Linked DNA regions of Homo sapiens: regions 1 and 2 are each reported to be linked to region 3. The links are microRNA targets in miRTarBase. Many come from high-throughput screens and were not tested one by one. Region 3 holds a microRNA gene; each other region holds the end of a gene's coding sequence.
What was found. The annotated mature microRNA hsa-miR-588 reads UUGGCCACAAUGGGUUAGAAC and lies in region 3 at 2,679-2,699, shown strand. An mRNA with a match to its seed (bases 2 to 7 or 8) in the 3' UTR can be bound and repressed. Matches are read on the target gene's strand: a 7mer-m8 pairs with bases 2 to 8, a 7mer-A1 pairs with bases 2 to 7 and ends in A, and an 8mer does both.

Region 1: miRTarBase lists CCDC90B as a target of hsa-miR-588. Seed matches in the 3' UTR shown: 7mer-A1 at 1,240-1,246.
Region 2: miRTarBase lists SKI as a target of hsa-miR-588. Seed matches in the 3' UTR shown: 7mer-A1 at 693-699.

Annotation. Positions count from the first base shown.
Region 1 is chr11:83,258,272-83,262,515 of GRCh38, reverse strand. It overlaps CCDC90B (coiled-coil domain containing 90B), which reads left to right. Exons shown (of 9, transcript NM_021825.5): 9 at 550-3,435. The coding sequence ends at 605. It also overlaps a transcript of ANKRD42 not described here. Among named protein-coding and RNA genes, the nearest start is that of CCDC90B-AS1, 26 kb to the left of the region's middle.
Region 2 is chr1:2,306,252-2,310,489 of GRCh38, forward strand. SKI (SKI proto-oncogene) reads left to right here. Exons shown (of 7, transcript NM_003036.4): 7 at 326-3,962. The coding sequence ends at 514. Among named protein-coding and RNA genes, the nearest start is that of SKI, 80 kb to the left of the region's middle. RefSeq lists an enhancer at 403-1,036.
Region 3 is chr6:126,481,968-126,486,211 of GRCh38, forward strand. It overlaps MIR588 (microRNA 588), which reads left to right and starts at 2,664; the gene lies at 2,664-2,746. It also overlaps a transcript of CENPW not described here.

The DNA of each region.
Region 1 (4,244 bases), not on the chromosome of region 3:
GTAAGCTAAAGTACAGGTAGTATATTAACTATTTTAAAAACCTAATGCTTTTTCTGCCTTTTCTTCTACCTCATTGAGTTTAAAGAGTTTTTATTAAAATTTTATTAAGAATTATGAGAAATTATTTAAAAATGTACTGAAAAGGCAATTAAAATTCTCTTCTCACAGATATATGTATATTTTACTAGCCTAACTACGTAATTTTTTAATATAAGAAAGATTTCATTTATCATGAGATCTGAAATTAGAGCTTATAATTATTTAAAGTAGTCAATAATGCTAGCGTTAATGATTTTAAATACAGGTTATAGGTTTCTAAATGACATAATTTACATTTTAATATACAGGTGCTTTTAAGAAGAATTAGGCATTAAGGCTGCCCTTAAGAATGTCTTTCATACTTAATTGTCTAGGGAATAAAAAACATAGGATAGAAAATTGGTTGGATTTCCTGTTTTTTGCTCTTCACTTAAAGATAACATTATTCTCTTTATCTCTGCAAAATAATTACAGATACAAGACCTATAACACAGTTTCTTCTTTTCACAGCTTCGGTGTTTACTTGCCTGGCAATAGCATTGGGATTTTATAGATTCTGGAAGTAGTATTAATGCTCATCCTGCTGTGGCTGTTGGCTTCTTAGAACACCAAACCGGGAGAGATTTACTTTGAACATTGTCAGTTGCAGCAAAAATTTACTACACAAGATTATTCGAAGTGTATACGGACTAAAAGAGGAAGTGTTTTAGAATGAGAAGAGATACTGTGTCTTTATTGTGTGTGTGTGAGTGCAGGTGTGTGTCTTTATTATATTGAAAAGCTGTCACTCAGACCTGGTTTGAGATAGAAGAGCATTTTGTCCTTTTGATAGTTAATAGAAATTGAACCAGAGTTTTCTTATGTTTGCTTGAACAGTTGTGTAAATCATACAGGATTTTGTGGGTATTGGTTGAATATTTGTAAACCATTCCCTAGCCTACATATTTATTACTGAATTAACTTTCCTGATAACCATTGCATAATTACATTTTTCTATAAAATGAAAGATTATTACAACAAAGTTGTGTGGGTTTTCAAAGTGACTTACCATATAGTTGGAGATTGATTTCTTTTTGGTAATGAACTAAAACAATAAATTTTAAAATGATAGGCCAGGCGCGGTGGCTCACACCTGTAATCTCAGCACTTTGGGAGGCTGAGGCGGGTGGATCACTTGAGGTCAGGAGTTCTAGACCAGCCTGGCCAACATGGTGAAACCCCGTCTCTGCTAAAAATACAAAAATTAGCCAGGCATGGTGGCACATGCCTGTAATTCCAGCTACTCGGGAGGCTGAGGCAGGAGAATCTTGCAGTGAGCCGAGATAGCACCACTGCACTCCAGCCTGGGTGACAGAGCAAGACTCCATTACCTAAATAAATAAATGTGTGCTTTAGTGCAAATTACAACACTTAATATGAAATCTGTAGAGTTGCTAAATATTGAGCTCTGATTATTACATGTATTTTTTAAATATTTGATACTCAAAAACCAGTTTATCCCTGCTTCTTAATGTAGTTTAAGTTAACCCATCTTAAATTTATTACATAAAACAAAGCTTTTCTTAATGACTTCAATTCAGCAAACATTGATATCTAGTACCTACTCTCAAGAAACTCATAGGAAAATTTAAATTCGTATTTTGTTTTGTTATTAGATATATTTTTTCTTACAAAGTAATATCTATTAGTAAATCATATGTAATTTCAAAGAAATTTTAAAATATCCTTTTCATCTTAGTTCTTCAGTCTTACCCAGATCAAGAAGACAAGACCAGAAAGTAAACATTTTGAGTTCATAATGCCTTGGTAATAGCTATAAAAGTTTGACAATCATTATTCAAAATAGCCTTGTCATTTGTTTAGCTATAAACAGGGAATCTGCAGTATAGAGCAGTCAAGAGATTGGTCCATATGGTCCAGTGAGTGAGAGTCAGGCTTTCCAACTATATTTTCCTCAAAAATCTAACTGCTGGTTTGTTTTCAAAAGAAAAACCTTGACATTATCCTGTTACATTCTGATTCATTTTTATCTCTATTGCCTAAGAGAGTTCTTAGTATATTATAGATTAATTTTCACTGAGTCAATTAATAAGTTACCATATATATTAAAGTCCACTGTAACAAAGTATACTGCATTTGTTCAGTTAACCAATATGACTGCCTGCTATATGCCAAACAGCATGCTAGTCCCTGTGTGCACAGAGATGAACATGGTTTCATTCTCATTGAATTGACAATCTTAAGGAGAGAGACATAAACAAGTAAATTATTGGTTTGTTAAGATTTAAAATATTCTAAAATATTAAGAGGGAATGCGTCTTTCCTCCATGTGAAGGAAGCTCCAGTAGCATAACACTGTCGTCACTCTTCATCCCCTTATCCACTCTGCCCTAGGTAAAGTGACTTGCCCAATTGTAAATCTGGAAGGAGAAACAAGGTGCAATTAGCCCACTTCCTCCCCACTCCTGTTTGGGACCAGCCCATCTGAAGAGACATTCATTCTGTTCTGCTTCTATGGGATCAGGCTCTGCCTCTGCAGGATGAGGCCTGGCCCAGTAGAGCAATGCTTGAGACAGGGTAAATCTGTCCAGTTCTAGAGTTCAGTGATAAGAAGCTTACTGGCCTTAAGATGAAACCCATATTCTCTTGCTGAGCACAGTGGCACACATCTATAGTCCTAGCTGCTTGGGAGGCTGCGGCAGCAGGATTGCTTGAGCCAAGGAGTTCATCAAGGCTAAAGTGTACCATGATCATACCTATAAATAGTCACTGCACTCCAGCCTGGCAACACATGAGACCCTGTCTCCTAAAAAAAAACTTCTCCAATAGTTTTATCAGCAAATAAAGGTGTTTTTTAGGCCTCTATATTAGTTTATTCATTCTTCATCTTAGTTATATTCACAACCCAGAATGGAAAGGAGGTATGCCATTTATTGGACCTTCTCAAGCCCCAACAAATAAATATACTTATTCCCAGGTTATACAGCCACTAAATATTAAATAGATCTGCGTTCTTTCTCATTGTAGGGGTTTAGCAAACAAAGTGCTTTGTATCCAATAACAGAAGAATAGAAATATGCATACCATACCCTGTCCCCATTACTTTTAGATCCTATATCCTTTCCATGAAACTTCATTTTGATGGTGGTTCTGGGGTTCAGGTAAATTTTTGTTTCAGTGATGGAAATATATGAAATAAGGATGAGAGGATTGTGTTTCTATATGCCTTAAAACTATACCTCTATTCCAGCACTTGCACTTCACTATGAAACAGCAATTATACGTATCTTTTTCCTACACTAAACTACAAGTTCTCAGAAGGCCTCTAGACACATGTGAGGTACTTGTTAAACGCCTGTGGAATAAATGATACTCATAAATCTCAGTTGACCTTAATCCAAACTTTTTAATATTTTAAATATTTAATTATGGGTATGCTGAAAATACTGCATTCATACTGAGTGAGCGTAATACACCTTTTAGGCATTTTCTATGAGTGGTAAGAAGCCTCCACAAGGATTAGCTACTTTCACCATGTTTATAGCCACAGTGTAGATCCTAACCTGCCTATCCATACTGCTTTGGTGACAAAATAGGCCAGGCAAGAGTATGTAAGGACTTGGCAAGAGTCAGGAAAAACCCTCACCTATTGGAAAAACAATTAAAAGCTTATAATGTTGTCAAACTTGAAGAATTTGGATATGTAACACTTGTTTATTTTTTAAGTATTTTTTAATATTTAAAAAAAGGGCAGTGGGAAAGGCTGTAGTCATTATCACTGAAACTACTGATTGCTATTTTGAAAAAAAATAGCTATCATTGACTATATGAGGGCAAATATGCTAAATAACATATATGTGCTCACCTATTTTCACAGCTCTCCTCTTAGGTAGATGGTATCCTCATTTTACAGCTGAAGAAACAAGTTTAGCCAAGTGAAGTAACTTGTCCACAGTCCCCCAGCAAGTAAGTCACAGGGACTCAAGTCTTTAACTCCAAATCTCACCCTCTCATGCTGTCACTCAATATACTAGTAGGGTTCAACCTGAGTACTCTTTCTCATGAGATGGACAATCTACTAAGTCATAGGAACAAAATAACTTAAATCTCTTTAATAACCTTTTTTTTTTGTTTCATTAACCTAAATGTGTCAATAATATAGGTATATGATTTATGAATAAATATACACAATTTGGGAATTGTAT
Region 2 (4,238 bases), not on the chromosome of region 3:
TATGCGGGTGGGGAGACTGAGGCACGCAGCACGGTGGGCGTGGAGCCGCCGTGGGCCCCGGTGGCCAGTCCTGCCCAGCCGGAAAGGCCTTGGAGCAGAAGCCAGGCCCGGGACCACGTTCCGTGCGTGCCCCCCCGACGGGCACAGGGTGGGTGGTTGCTGGGCCCTGCGTCTCGTGAGCCTGTGTCCTAGCAGGTGGAGGAGGGGCCGGCACGCGGCACTGGGGAGGGACAGGGAGCGGCGCAGGAGCCTCGGGTGGGGGAAGCAGCGTCGGGCCGGGGCAGGGCAGCGAGCAGGCGCCGCTGACCACTCGGCTCCCTTTCAGATCGAAGACCTGCAGGTGAAGCTGCAGCACGCGGAGGCGGACCGGGAGCAGCTGCGGGCCGACCTGCTGCGGGAGCGCGAGGCCCGGGAGCACCTGGAGAAGGTGGTGAAGGAGCTGCAGGAACAGCTGTGGCCGCGGGCCCGCCCCGAGGCTGCGGGCAGCGAGGGCGCTGCGGAGCTGGAGCCGTAGATTCCGTGCCTGCCGCCGCAGCGCCGCCGACAACGCGGGTGCAGGGGGGCGCGGCTGGGCGGTGCAGCTCCGCCCGGCTCCGCCCCTGCAGCCCACACAGCACAACGTCTTACCGTGCCTATTACCAAGCGAGTGTTTGTAACCATGTAGTTTTGGAACCCACTGCAAAATTTTCTACTGGCCAAGTTCAAGTGAGTAAGCCGCGTCCCCCAACTACAGCTGGAGACGGGGCCAGCTCGGCGGCCTGCTGGTCCTCTGCTTGCTGGAACATTCTAACATTTACACTTTTGTTATAAGCTATTTAAAACCAGTAAGGAGACTTGAAATTCAGAAAATCAACACATTTTTAAATGACTAACTTCTAAAAGCCCCAACACATGACGCCATCTGAAGACCCGCAACGGAGTGGGGGTGGCGGCCGCCCCACCCTCCCCACCCGGGGAAGCCATCACAGCTCATCTGCCCGCGGCTGCGTGAGGACAGCAGGGGTTTTTCTTCAGAGTCTATTTTTTCAGCGACAAGGACCCAGGTCTTCCTGCTGCTGCCAGGGAGAGCAGGGACAGTGCCGCGTGCGAGATGAGCTCGAACACTGCCCGCCTTACTGCCGCCTACCCCGCCCGCCACGCCGCCGTCGATGCCAGCGCTGTCCCCACGGGTACCAGGAAGTGCAGAGCCGCACAGGAGCTGCCCCGGAGCTGAGGGGACGGTCTTCGGCTCCTCTGCACCCCGTGATTCTGCCCACGCTCCTCCACCACGAGGCACTGACCTGCGTCGGGTGGTGACCGTGGCTGGCGGTCACGCCCTCAGCCCCTCCGGGCACACGTGCCGCCTGACCGGGCGACCCTTTTCAGTTCGGCAAACGTCGCTCCCTTCATTTTGGGACTGAGGCTGCAGCATTGGAACAAAAGAGCATTATTTCAATTTTTCTTTCTTTTTTTTTGTTCGTTCATTTAAACGTATATTTAGAACTGCACTTTGTCCACAACCTTCCCTTCTCTTTCTATTCCCCAGTGAACTGAGGTTTTTACCGATTTATAGAGCAGTCAAATCCGAAGTGCTCGAGTGCTTAGAAACCCCCTCTGGTGCTTGGTTGAACAAGGGAATCACAAGAAAACGAAAATGCAAAAACTGAACTTCGGGGGTCGTTCTGTGCCTTCCAGCATCTTGTACAGCAAATCCTGACTCGTGTCTTTTTACCCCCAAGATATCTGTCTTCAGTAGCGACTGAATCTGCCACTCTCAGAATAAGTTCCTTGCATTTATTCCAAATAATCTCGTTTACTCTCACCTGTTTATGCAAATTGTATAAGGTTTCTTATGCCCAAGCTTGAAAAATGATTTCCCAGTAGACAAGAGGCGGCTACCTATCCTACAGTTACGGTATTTATTTACATAAGAAGATCTTACAGGAGTTCTTTGCTTGAATCCGTTCTAACACCCGCGGCAGCTGCACGCGCTCACAGAAGGTGGAGGTTACTTGCCCAGGTACAGACGACCTCGGGGCAGTGACGAGCAAAGACCAGAGACTGCTGAGCCCTCGCATCTGGGTGGCGGAATTGCCTGCGGGGTTTTGCCCTTGGTTTACTGAGGGGGGTCTTGGTTGCTGCTGAAGCCCCCCACCCCTTCTAAAGTGCAATGCAAAAGGGACATCATGTATATGCAGCGTTTGTTTGGAATTTTCTTTGCTTTTGTTTTCTTTGCGGTTGTTCTGTGTGCATGGATTCCACACCTCTGCCGTAGGTAGATCCGTCAGCGGGCATTATTACCGTGTCTTGTAAAGGGTCGGTTTTGTTATGCAACATGCAGAATGCTGTTTTTAGCCTTGTTTTACCAGAGTTGTTTTTTTTTTCAGTTATTTCTTCAAGGGAAACTAAATGATTTAGTTGGAGCAAAGCTTTAAGTGTGTTGGCGTGCTTCTGTGTGGCTGTCCTGTGTCGCCAGGTCGAAGATCACAGTGAGGTAGAGGCCCTGCCCCATCCCCAGGGCCGCCAGGCTTGCTCCGTTTGCTTTGAGTTTTTAGACCCCAGAGGGAGATGAGCTTTTCCAAGCTGTGTCTGGGCCAGAGCCTCTCCTTGCCCTTGCTCCATCCCGACGGTCACCGTTGGGTCCACGCCTCCACCGCCCCATCTTGCCCCAAACGGAAAGCGCTGTATCTGCAGTGGCAGCCCTTCCCCACTTCGGCTCTGGGAGGGTCCAGCCAGTGTCACCTGGGCCCACCCTTTCCTGCAGCTGCCAGGCCCGTGCGGTCAGTGGGACCCGGACGTGGGCAGGCGAGCTCGGGACCCTCCCAGGCAGTTCCCACAGCTCTTGCCTCGGCTCACCAGGGTCACTTCCACTGTCAGGGGCCTGAGGGGGCAGCTGTGGCTGCAGGGCTGCTCTGGACTGAGGGGTCCCAGGCCCCGAGGGGTGCACGCCTGGCTCCCCTTGGCACAGGTGCGAGTCCGTTTCTTTTCAGCAGAAGGGGGAAGAGGTGTCCGCTGTGTGGGCTGCTGACTCCTCTGTGTGTGAGGCCCTTCATCTAAGTGATTGTGTATTCAGTTTAATTCTCATTATATTTCTATACTGAAAGAAGATTTTTAACGAAGGGAAAAACAACAGCAATAACATTCATATCTCTGGAGCAGCTAACTCATACACGTAATGTCTGCTTTTCGTACAGAACTAGCCAATGTAAAAACAGTTCACCTGTAAATACTTTTTCCTTTTTCACCGTTGTATTATACATGTATATGCTGGGTCCTTTTTCAGAAACTCTTTTCTTACCTGAGAGTTGTCTTGTTTTCTGGGCTGTTTTTAACTGAGGAAAAAAAAAATGCTTTCCTGCCGGGGGGCAGGGGAGACGGAGAAACCCATGTGCGTTTCCCATGTGACCCCCTCCTCCCTGTGGGTCTGAGCCCCGGCCCCCCCCACCTCCTCCTCCCTGTGGGTCCGAACCCCGGCCCCCCCACCCCCTCCTCCCTGTGGGTCCGAACCCCGGCCCCCCCACCCCCTCCTCCCTGTGGGTCCGATCCCCGGCCCCCCCCACCCCCTCCTCCCTGTGGGTCCGAACCCCGGCCCCCCCCCCACCCCCTCCTCCCTGTGGGTCCGAACCCCGGCCCCCCCACCCCTCCCTCAGCCCACCAGGGTCCAGGGAGATGTTCGTTCTCGCTTTAAGTCAGGAGTCACAAATGACTTTTTTTTTTCAATTAAGGAAAAAGCTCCATCTCTACCTTTAACATCACCCAGACCCCCGCCCCTGCCCGTGCCCCACGCTGCTGCTAACGACAGTATGATGCTTACTCTGCTACTCGGAAACTATTTTTATGTAATTAATGTATGCTTTCTTGTTTATAAATGCCTGATTTAAAAAGAAAAGAGCTTGGCATATTTATCTATTTCGCTGTGTACCTGTTAGTCCTTCCCCGACCCCGAAACAGATGACATTGTACAATAAAGGACTTTGAGAGGACCGCGGGACAGCTGTGCGTGCGCCCACCACAGCCCCTCCCCAGACCGGCCACACACGGGCGGCTGGGACCCCCTCGCTTTCAGGCCATCGTGGGTGGGGGTGCTGTCACAGGTCAGATTGTGGGCCTCGGAGTCTCCGTCGACCCCGAGGGCACGTGGGGTCCAGGCGGCCGCCCTGGCACAACTGCCCTCTCACCTAGTCCCCGTCCCCTCTGAGCTGGGCAAGGCCACGGTTTCCTCTGCGATTCAGGGAGCTTGCAGTCCCTGCTTGTAGCAC
Region 3 (4,244 bases):
GGATATATTACTTTGTGAAGTTCATTTTTGAAGCCTTTTGCCCATTTTTCTTTGTGTTGTATTTATTTTCCATACTCATCAAAAACATCCCAAAATGCTAGAGGAAATGCTCTAGAATTCAGGAATAACTTCTTTTGTGGTAGAGAATTTTTATTTCAGAGTATAGACACTGTTTGTGCTGGGTTTCTTAATTTTACTGGATATCATCATTTTCTTGGGCTGTTTGATCAAGTTTGATTTTCCCAGTGCAACATTTCTGAGAGTAAATATGGTCTGCTTAATAAAATATGTTCTAAAGCCAGATAAGTGCTTTCCAGCAAGTACAATTTTCCTTCCAGCAAGTATAATACCTGGTTTATAAGCATTACATATATTAATATTATTATTTTGTCAGATAGATATAATAAAAGTTTAATATTTCAATCTTTTATGGTAAGTGCTATTTATATACTGTTTAAGAAAGAGGCACCCATCATGACAATAATGTTCTATATTTTCCTATGAAAGTCTTGTTTTATATTTCACATTTAGGTTTTGATGGTCCTTAAATATAAGATTTTTATACATGATATTATGTATGGATTTAGGTTAATTTATTTTTATATGGATAGCCAATTGACCCAGAACCACTTATCAAAAAGACATCCTTTATACATTGAATTGCAATAGTGTTTTATCAAAACCAGCTAAGTATTTTTGAGTGAGTGTATTTCTGAACTCTCTAATTTGTTTCATTTGTTTACCTTTTGTTGTATTATTTCCTCACCATCTTAATTATTTTTAGCCTTATAAAAGCTTTGATATTTGGTAGTATAAGTTTTCCTGTTTAGTTTTTCTTCTGTAATATTTTCTTGACTATATAAAGTCCTTGCATTTCTATGTACATTTTAGAATAAAACTGTCAATTTGCACAAAATAACAGGCTGGGATTTGGATAGAGATTATGTTGATTTGAGGGAGATTGGCATTTTATCAATATTGTGTCTTTCAGTCAATATACAGAGTATATCTATTTAGTTATTTTGATATTAATTTTTCTCACCAATGTTTTATGGTCCTTAAGGAAAAAGCCTTGCAATGTTTCTATATATGTGATCCTAGGTAGTGGACCCTTTTAGATGTTATTATAAATGATTTTGCTTTTTAATTAAATTTCATTTTTCAGTTATTTCTAGTATAAAGAAATGGAGGTGACTGATTATTGGAAACATTTATTTGTAAATTTTCTTATTTTTAATTTTTTTGTAGATTCTTGTAAATTTTCTGCAGAAAATTTATATTTTTTTCTGGCTTTATTGAACTGCTTTGAAACTCCAGTGAAATGTTGAATAAAAGTGCTGATAATTGATATTATTTCCTTATCCTTGTTCAATTGCATTAAAACTTTACCATTAACTATATATTTTTAGTAGACCTCTTTATCAGATTAGGAAAATACACTCCTGTTCCTAACTTACTGAATTAAACAAATCATGAACAAGTGTAGAATCTTATTAAGAGCTTTTTTATTGAATATACTAAAATCATCAAATGGGTTTTCTCTTTTATTAACAGATGTAAAATTTTACTAAATGCTTTTTTCCACATTCCTTTGAAATATTCATAAAGTTTTTCTATTTTTTCTAATTTGATGAATTACACTGATTGATTTTTAAAATATTAAACCAAACTTCCAATCCTGGCAAAAACTCCAATTAGTTTTATATAAAACCTATGATTTTTAAATACACTACTAGGTGGAATTTGATAATATTTTGGGTAGGATTTTTCCATCTAGATTAATGAAATATATTGGGCTATACTTTTCCAGTCCTACATTGTTATTGTAAGGTTTGGGCATCAGGGTTATGCTGGCCTCGTAAATTAAGAAATTTTTCCCTCTGTTTTCTGTTTTCTGGATAATTTTTTGTTAGAATGTATTTTTTTCTCTTCATTACATGTTTGAAAGAATTTTCCAGAGATGTCATCTAGGTCTAAAGATTTCTTTGTAAGAAAAGCTTAAAATTACATGTTTTTAGTAGATATTGGAGTGTTCATATTTTTTATTTTTGTGAATTATTACTTGTGGTTTTTCAAGTAATTTGTCCTTTTTTTCCAAATTACCAGCATCAAAGTGTTAGTAATGTCCTTTATTTTCTTCTAAATTCTGTAGGACCTGTAGTTATATATAATGTTAATATATTAATATATCACAATAATATTTTTAAAGTTTTTGCTTTTGTTATTTTTTTTGTGTGCCTATTTTCTAGTGAATTGACTTTTGGGGCTATATTGATTATCTGTTTTTCATCTACTTTCTTTGTACTTGCTCTTCTGCCACTAGCTTTTTGAAATGAAAGATTAGATCAATAATTATCAATATTCTTTCTTGCCCAAAATATTTACTTCAATTCTTATTACATCTTCTTGCTTGTAACTGGGACCCTTTTCTTTTTAGCTGAAAGACCTAGTTTTTATTTCCTTAGCACAGGTCTGTGGTGAAGAATTTTCTCAGCCATTGTTTTCAAAGATATCTTTATTGTACCTTCATTTAAAAACAATTTTTAGGGGAGAAGATGGAGCAAGATGGCTAAATAGAAGTCTCTGCTGGTCGTCCCCTCCACAGGAACACCAAATTGAACAACTATTTAAATAAAAAAGCACCTTCATGAGAACCGAAAATCAGCTTAGGTACCAATTTGGCCACAATGGGTTAGAACACTATTCCATTGTGTTCTTACCCACCATGGCCAAAATTGGGCCTAAGGGGTCCCAATTCCCGGCCTCAGCTCTTGGATGGAATTTCTAGACCTGCCCTGGGCCAGCGGAGAGCCCACTGCCTTAAAAGGAGAGTACCAGCCTGGCAGCATTCACCACAAGCTGACTGGAGTGTCCTTGGGCCTTAGGTGAACATCAGCAGTAACCAGAAAGTACTTGCTGCAAGCCTGGGCTGGTGGTGGCCAAGGGGAGAGACTCTTCTATTTGTGGAAGAAATAGGCAAGAGTGGGAAAGACTTTCTCTTGTGGCTTGGGTGCCAGATCAGCTGCAATAGAATAGAGCACCAGGTAGATTCCTAAGGTTTCTGAGTTCAGGCCCTGGATCCCAGCTGGCATCTCTGGACCCACCCAGGGCTGGGGGAGCTCACTGCCCTGAGGGAAAGGACAAATGCCTGGCTGGCTTTACCATCTGCTGATTGTAGAGCTCTAGGGCCTTGAGTACACACAGATGGTAACTAGGCAGTGGTTACCATGAGCTTTGGGTGAGACCCAGTGCTGTGCTGGCTTCAGATCTGACCCATTGCAGCCCCAGTGATGGTGGCCACAAAGAGGCTTGTGTCACCCCCTCCCCCAGCACCAGGTAGCTCAGCACAGAGAGAGAGAGAGAGACTCTGTTTGAGAGAAAGCGAGGGAAGAAAACAAGAGTCTCTGCTTGGGAATCCAGAGAATTCTTTTGGATTTTAACCAAGACTACCAAGGTAGTACCTCTACAAGTCTGCAAGAGCCACAGGAAAAGCCCTGCCTAATGCAGATATGGCTGCAGTGACCAAAAACTTAGATAACAACACCCAACACTCTTTGAATGCTTGGAAACCTTTCCCAAGAAGGATAGATGCAAAGAAGCCCAAACTGTGAAGAGTACAATAAATACCTAAGTCTTCAATGCCCAGTCACCAATAAACATCCACAAGCATAGAGATCATCCAGGAAAACATGAACTCACCAAATGAACCAAATAAGGCACCAAGGAGAAATCCTGGAGAAACAGCAATATGAGGACTTTTCAGACAGAAAATTCAAAATAGCTGTTTTGAGAAAACTCAAAGAAATTTGGGTAACACAGAGAAGCAATTCAGAATCTTATCAGATAAGTTTAACAAAGAGATTGAAATAATTAAAAATAAGTAAGCAGAAATTGTGGAGTTGAAAAATGCCATAGACATACTGAAGAAATCATCAGAGTATCTAATAGCAGAATTGATCCAGCAGAAGAAAGAATGAGTGAGCCTGAAGACAGACTACATGAAAATGCACAGAGGATCCAAAAGAAAAAATAATAAAAAAAATGAAGCATGCCTACAGGATCTAGAAAACAGCCTGTAAAAGGCGAATCTAAGAGTTACTGGCCTTAATAGGGCAGATAGAAATAGTGGTAGGGATAGAAAATTTATTCAAAGGAATAATAACAGAGAAACCTAAACAAAGATACCAATATTCAAGGAAATCAATCATGCCCCTATTTCCCCTACCCCCAGCCTCTGTAACTAC